Linked DNA regions of Homo sapiens: region 2 is linked to region 1. The links come from fine-mapping of genetic effects on plasma protein levels. A gene starts in region 1. The other region holds a variant in brackets. All regions are shown on one strand. Distances are from middle to middle.

Region 1 (2,893 bases):
GACGCGTCCTCCTCCAACTCCACTTTACCCAGTCTCTCCCCCACCCCTCCCCCACAGGCTGACTCCATAACAATCTATTAATAGAAACTACCTACGAGTTTCTGATACCCTGCCAGGAGCTCCTTGGCACGCAGCGGGTGCACCTAGAACCTTCCAGCCCGTCCCATCCCCGACCCTCCTCCACCCCAGGCATCCGTAGAACGCACTTCGGGAAGAGCTCCCGCCAGCCCACCCGCCTCACCGAAGGCCCTCTTGGGCTGCACCAGGCGCAGGGTGAAGGGCTGGGACTTGGGCAGCTCCCGGAGCATCTTGGCCACCTCGTAGTGGCGGCAGCCCACAATGGAGTGGTCGTTGATGGCTTCGATGCTGTCACCCACGCACACTGCCTCGATCCGGTTGATGATACTGCCTTCCTTGATTCTCTGCAGGGATCCAGCGTCGCTGGCAGGGCAACCCCAGCCACCCGCCTCCAATCCGCAGAACCCACGTCGACCCAGAGTGGGGGGGGCAGTTGCTGGACCCCAGGAAGCCACCCGCCCACCCCCTCCCGGGCACCTTGATGAAGGCGTAGCCAGCCCCGTTGTCCGTGATGGTCAGCCCCAGAGCATCCTCTGTCTTAGTGACCTCCACCTCCTTGGTCTCGCCTCGCACGTGGGCAAAGATGAAGTCCTCCAGGCCTATCTGACCCCCCAGGAGCTTCTGCATGTCCACTTTGTGGCTGTTGAGGGTGCAGAATAAAATCTTCCCGGGGGAGAAGGAGCCTAGAGTTAGCCAGGGCATGCATCCCCCCACGCAGCCACCCTGTCTGCGCAGGCCCCTGCCCCCAGCGACCAGGATCCCAGCCCATGGGAAAGGGCAGGGCGTGGGACCCCCAGAACAGAGAGAGGAGGGAGAAGGAGACTTCCAGCAGGTGGAGACCCCTCTCCATACCCCGGGACCTCCAGCCCCCAGACCTCCAGGTTTAATCTGCTGGCGCCCCCTGGGGGCTGCAAACCAAACGAACCCGGATTGGAAAAACGCCCAGGAACCCCCCAACCCCACGGCGGCCTCAAACTTCCCATCCCTAAGGGGGCCATCTGGAACCCCAGACCCCAGCTACGCCCAGGAAGCACAGAGGCGCTTCCCCGAGGGCTGGGGTCCGCTCCAAGCTAGGTCTGCGCAGAGGATTTTCTGGAATATCTAGGGGTCCGCTAGTCCTAAGACCTGCCCATCTTTTGCGCAGAGCGTGCAAAGGGGGCCCCTGGGAGTGTGGCACCCCGGGATCTGAGGGCTGGGTCTCTGAGATCCGGCGATTAGGCGGCCACCCCGACGTCTGGGATCCGGGGATCTGGGGTCTCCCGTCCAGGGTCCAAGCTCCCTACCCCTCACCCCATCAGGCGGGTGGTCTTGGGCGCCGGTGTCCGGGCTCCTTACCTCGGTGGGCGCGATCCCGAAGGCTTCGGCGATCTTGGCGTACAGCTCGCGGACGTTGGTGAAGCCCTCGATCTTGCCCGTGGGGCTCCCGTGCGCCAGCTGCGTGCGGAAGACGAGGCGCGGGCGGGCGCGGGGCGCGGCCGGGGGCTCCGAGGGCGCGGGCGGGGGCGCAGACGCGCGCGGGGTCTCGGTCCCCCGGGCCTCCCGGGCCGCTGCTCCCTCCATGGCGGGAGAAGTTCGGCCACCCACCCGGGCCCTCGCCGCCGCCGCCGGATCCGCCGCTTCCTGCAGCCTCCCCTCCCCCGGCCCAGGGCGCGACAGCCGAGACGCCCGGGTAAGGGGATCTGGGAACCCGAGCCTCCCGGGAAGGCGACACCGCGGGGTGCGCAGGGGTGGGTCGGGCCCCAGGTGTCCGGGCCCTGCCAGGGCCAGCTGTGCCCTCCCCGGGGATACCCGCAGTCCGGGGGGGCCTGAGCTCAGGACCCTGGAAGAACAGGGACCACAAATAAGGACAGGGACAGGCCTGGAGCGGTGGCTCACGTCTGTAATTCCAGCACTTTGGGAGGCCGAAGCGGGCAGATGACCTGAGGTCAGGAGTTCAAGACTAGCCTGGCCAACATGGTGAAACCCCGTCTCTACCAAAAATACAAAAATCAGCCGGACGTGGTGGCGGGCGCCTGTAATCCCAGCTACTCGGGAGGCTGAGATCTCTTGAACCCGGGAGGCGGAGGTGGCAGTGAGCTGAGATGGCGCCATTACACTCCAGCCTGGGCAACAAAGCGAGACTCCGTCGCAAAAAAAAAAAAAAAAAAAAAAAAAAGGACAGGGACAGCTGAGGGTGCTGGAGCACTCACCCTCTGCTAGGCGAGGTCATTGTTTTATTTTATTTTATTATTTTTATTTATTTATTTATTTTGAGCTGGAGTCTCGCTCTGTCACCCAGTTTGGAGTTCAGTGGCACGATCTCAGCTCACTGCAACCTCTGCCCACCAGGTTCAAGCAATTCTCATGCCTCGGCCTCCCCAGTAGCTGGGATTACAGGCATATACCACCATGCCCGGCTAATTTTTTTGTATTTTTAATAGAGATGAGGTTTCACCATGTTGGCCAGGATGGTCTTGAACTCCTGACCTCAGGAATCCACCCACCTTAGCCTCCAAAAAAGCTGGGATTACAGGCATGAGCCACCACGCCCAGCCTTTGGTTTGTTTGTTTGATTTTGGAGACGGAGTCTAGCTCTGTCGCCCAGGCTGGAGTGCAATGGCGTGATCTCGGCTCACTGCAACCTCCACCTCCTGGGTTCAAGCGATTCTCCTGCCTCAGCCCCCCTAGTAGCTGGGATTATAGGCGCACACCACCATGCCTGGCTAATTTTTGTATTTTTTAGTAGAGACAGGGTTTCACCATGTTGGTCAGGCTTGTCTCGAACCCCTGACCTCAGGTGATCCACCTGCCTTGGCCTCCCAAAGTGCTGGGATTA
Region 2 (2,893 bases), 80 kb before region 1:
TTGAGAGGTCGGGGTGAAATTCCGTGATGGAGGAGGGGGCCCTGCATCTGAGGGGCCACACCCTCAGTGGCAGGGGTGCCTGGTCAGGGCTGCAGGGGCAGGAAGGGCTTCTCTGGGTTCCAGGCCACGTGGAGCCTGGATTCTGGGGGGTGGGCGGTGGGGAGAGAGCAGCTCTCGCCGGGGGACTGGGGGCAGGAATGGAAGACCTGGCTGGAGGGTTAGACGCTGCCCAGAGGGCGATGCCCGAGGCTACCAGCTGCACCCACGCCCTCAGTGTCTGTGAGCCACACAGGCGTAGTGCACAGTGAGGCTGTGTGCAGCCTATGTGTGCATGTTTGCCTGCGTGCGTGTGTGCACGTTTGTGTGTGTGCATGTTTGCCTGCGTGCGTGTGTGCACGTTTGTGTGTGTGCATGTTTGCCTGCGTGCGTGTGTGCATCTATTTTTGCTTGTGTGGATGTTTGCCTGTGTGTGTGCACGTTTGTGTGTGTGCATGTTTGCGTGCATGTGTGCACGTGTTTGCCTGTGTTCATTTGCCTACGTGCGTGTGTGCACGTGTTTGCCTGTGTTCATGTTTGCCTGAGTGCATGTGTGTTTGCCTGTGTGCCTGTTTGCCTGCGTGCGTATGTACACGTTTGCCTGTGTGCACGTCTGCACGTGTGTTTGCCTGTGTGCATATTTGTCTGTGTGTGTGCACATCTGCATGTACATGGGTCCTGTCATTGCTGCCCGTCTCCTCCCGAGAGCTTTCTCTGCACGTTGGCCCTGCCTTTGCAGCTTCTGCCAGCCCCGTGGCGCCGAGTGGCCTTCTTCCCAGCCCCAGTGGGCGCAGTGGGGTGGGCCGTCCTCTGAGGGCACCCGAGCTGCTGCATCTCCCGTCTTCCCGCATGCAGTCCTCAGGGCACCTGTCCATGAGCCCCATTCACAGGAGCAGTCCCCAAGGCACCTGTCCCACCTGGGCCACCCTTGGCCCTGCGTCCGTAGCCAGAGCTTGGAGGGCTTTGTCCACCAGGCCTGGGACCCTGGGATCCTTCCTCAGAGTCCCCCGGCGTGGGGGCAGTGTGGAGGGTGGCGCGGGTGGAGGGTGGCCCGGGTGGCGGGGTGAATTCCTGGGGAGAGCCTGCCCCCTGGCGGCCACCTGGGAGAATGCAGGGAACATGGCTGAGCAGCGTCGGCTGTGGAGGGAGGGCAGGGGCAGGGGTCAGGGCTGCAGGCGTGTCCCTGGGGCTGATAGCGGTGGGATGG[G/A]GTCTGGCCAGTGGAGGGTCCATGGGGTCTCCTAGCAAACGCAGTGGCGCTCCTTAAATGACGGTGCCAGGCGGGGCTGTTCTCCTTGGTTGGCCTCTGTGTCCCTTCAGGCTCCCAAGGCCCCTCCTCACATCCTCCCTCGAGGGCAACAAGCTGAGGCCCCCTGGGGTCGGCGGTCCCATCTGCTGGGACACCCGCGCTGCCCGACAGCTTGCAGGAGCCGGGCCTGACCCTGGCCAGTGAGACCATCTCCCTCAGGGACAAGGTGGTCTTTTCAATCCTTCCATCCCAGCGGTCTCACAGTTAGGGGCCCTGGTGAGGGAGAGGAGTTACGACTCCCACCACCACCTCAGGCGGTGGGTGAGATGCTCTGAGGCTGGCCTGGCTCACACCGTGTTGGCAGGAAGCCTGACCCCCGCTCTGTTCCCACCCCCACCTCAGTCCTGTTTTTTTAAAAAATACCCACTTTACTGAGATGTGATTTGCATACTGTACTCTCTGAAGTGTGCAGTGAGTGACTTTTAGTACATTTGCAGAGTTGTGTGGGGACATCTGTGGTTGCCACAACTGGGAGGTGCTCCTGGCATGGAGTGGGTGGAGGCCAGGAATGCTGCTCAGCACCCTGCTGTGCCCAGGGTGGCCCCACCCCAAAGAACGGTCCAGCCCCAGTGTCCACAGCACCTGGGGGAGACCCTGGAATTAGAGGGCTGGAGCTGCCCAATCCTCTTGCCCTTCCTGAGGAGGCAGAGGTCTCCACCTTGGAGTGAGCGCTTCTGGGTGTCCAGTGTGGGACACTGAGGGGCCCCAGCCAGCCCGCCAGGCGCCCACGGGTGAGGGGCCTCCTGCTGCACCCCGGAGTCGCCTGGACCTGCCCCCTGCCCTGTGCACCCCTGCTGGGCCCAACGACTAAACCTTTCTTCCCAGGGTTTCAGAGCGTGCCCTGTCCCGGTGGGCGTGCTCCTTAGGGAGTTAACGCTTCCTGCTTCCTCTTCCCAGGTTCTGTCCATGACGGCACAGCCGGGCCCTGGCCATGGGAAGAAGTTGGGCCATCGAGGTGTGGACGCATCCGGCGAAACCACCTACAAGAAGGTTCCTCGGCTCCCCTTAGCTGGCTGGAGGGAGCGGGACAGAGCAGAGGGGAGGGGGATCCCACTGGTAGCATGGATGGGGCCTATCGCCCCCGACACAAACCAGGGTCTGCCCAGGGACAGGTGTGGGCTGTGTGGAGGCAGAGGCTGGAGTCCTCAGTCCTGCATGAGGCCCCACTGTTTGCTGTCCTTGCCGGGCGGCCGGGCAGCATGTTCTGTGGCTCAGCCTGGCTGCAACGCCTGCCCGGCTCTGAGTCCCTGAAACCTCGGGCAGAGCCTGGGCTCTCGGCCCTGGTGAGGGAGAGGGGTTATGGACCCCACCACCACCTCGGGCAGTGGATGGGACACTCTGAGGCTGGCCTGGCTCACACCGTGTTGGTAGGAAGCCTGACCCCCACTCTGTTCCCACCCCCACCTAGGGCCTGTTTTTTCAAAAGTAACCGTTTTACTGAGATGTGATTCATATACTGTACAATTCAGCCTTTAAAGTGTGCAGTAAATGACTTTTAGTACATATGCAGAGTTGTGCAGCCGTCACCTCTAATTCCAGAACATTGCATCA

Alleles and levels. Positions count from the first base shown, and alleles are read on the strand shown. Strength reflects both the effect of a copy and how common the allele is.
As copies of A replace G in region 2, the plasma level of the protein whose gene starts at base 1,758 in region 1 goes up (weak association).

What was found. PIP is the posterior inclusion probability: the model's chance that the variant is causal. Protein levels are from antibody-based Olink assays in UK Biobank. Linkage for the fine-mapping came from a reference panel and not from the study's own genotypes, which makes the PIPs less certain.
Region 2: its variant is fine-mapped to the plasma level of the GIPC3 protein (UK Biobank, PIP above 0.99).

What each region holds. Positions count from the first base shown.
Region 1 is chr19:3,584,343-3,587,235 of GRCh38, reverse strand. GIPC3 (GIPC PDZ domain containing family member 3) reads right to left here and starts at 1,758. Exons shown (of 6, transcript NM_133261.3): 1 at 1,414-1,758; 2 at 556-741; 3 at 242-422. The coding sequence starts at 1,638.
Region 2 is chr19:3,664,261-3,667,153 of GRCh38, reverse strand. It overlaps PIP5K1C (phosphatidylinositol-4-phosphate 5-kinase type 1 gamma), which reads left to right. Exons shown (of 18, transcript NM_012398.3): 3 at 2,240-2,332. Among named protein-coding and RNA genes, the nearest start is that of PIP5K1C, 35 kb to the left of the region's middle. RefSeq lists a silencer at 1,018-1,127 and an enhancer at 1,057-1,887. The variant G/A (reference allele first, on the strand shown) is at 1,244.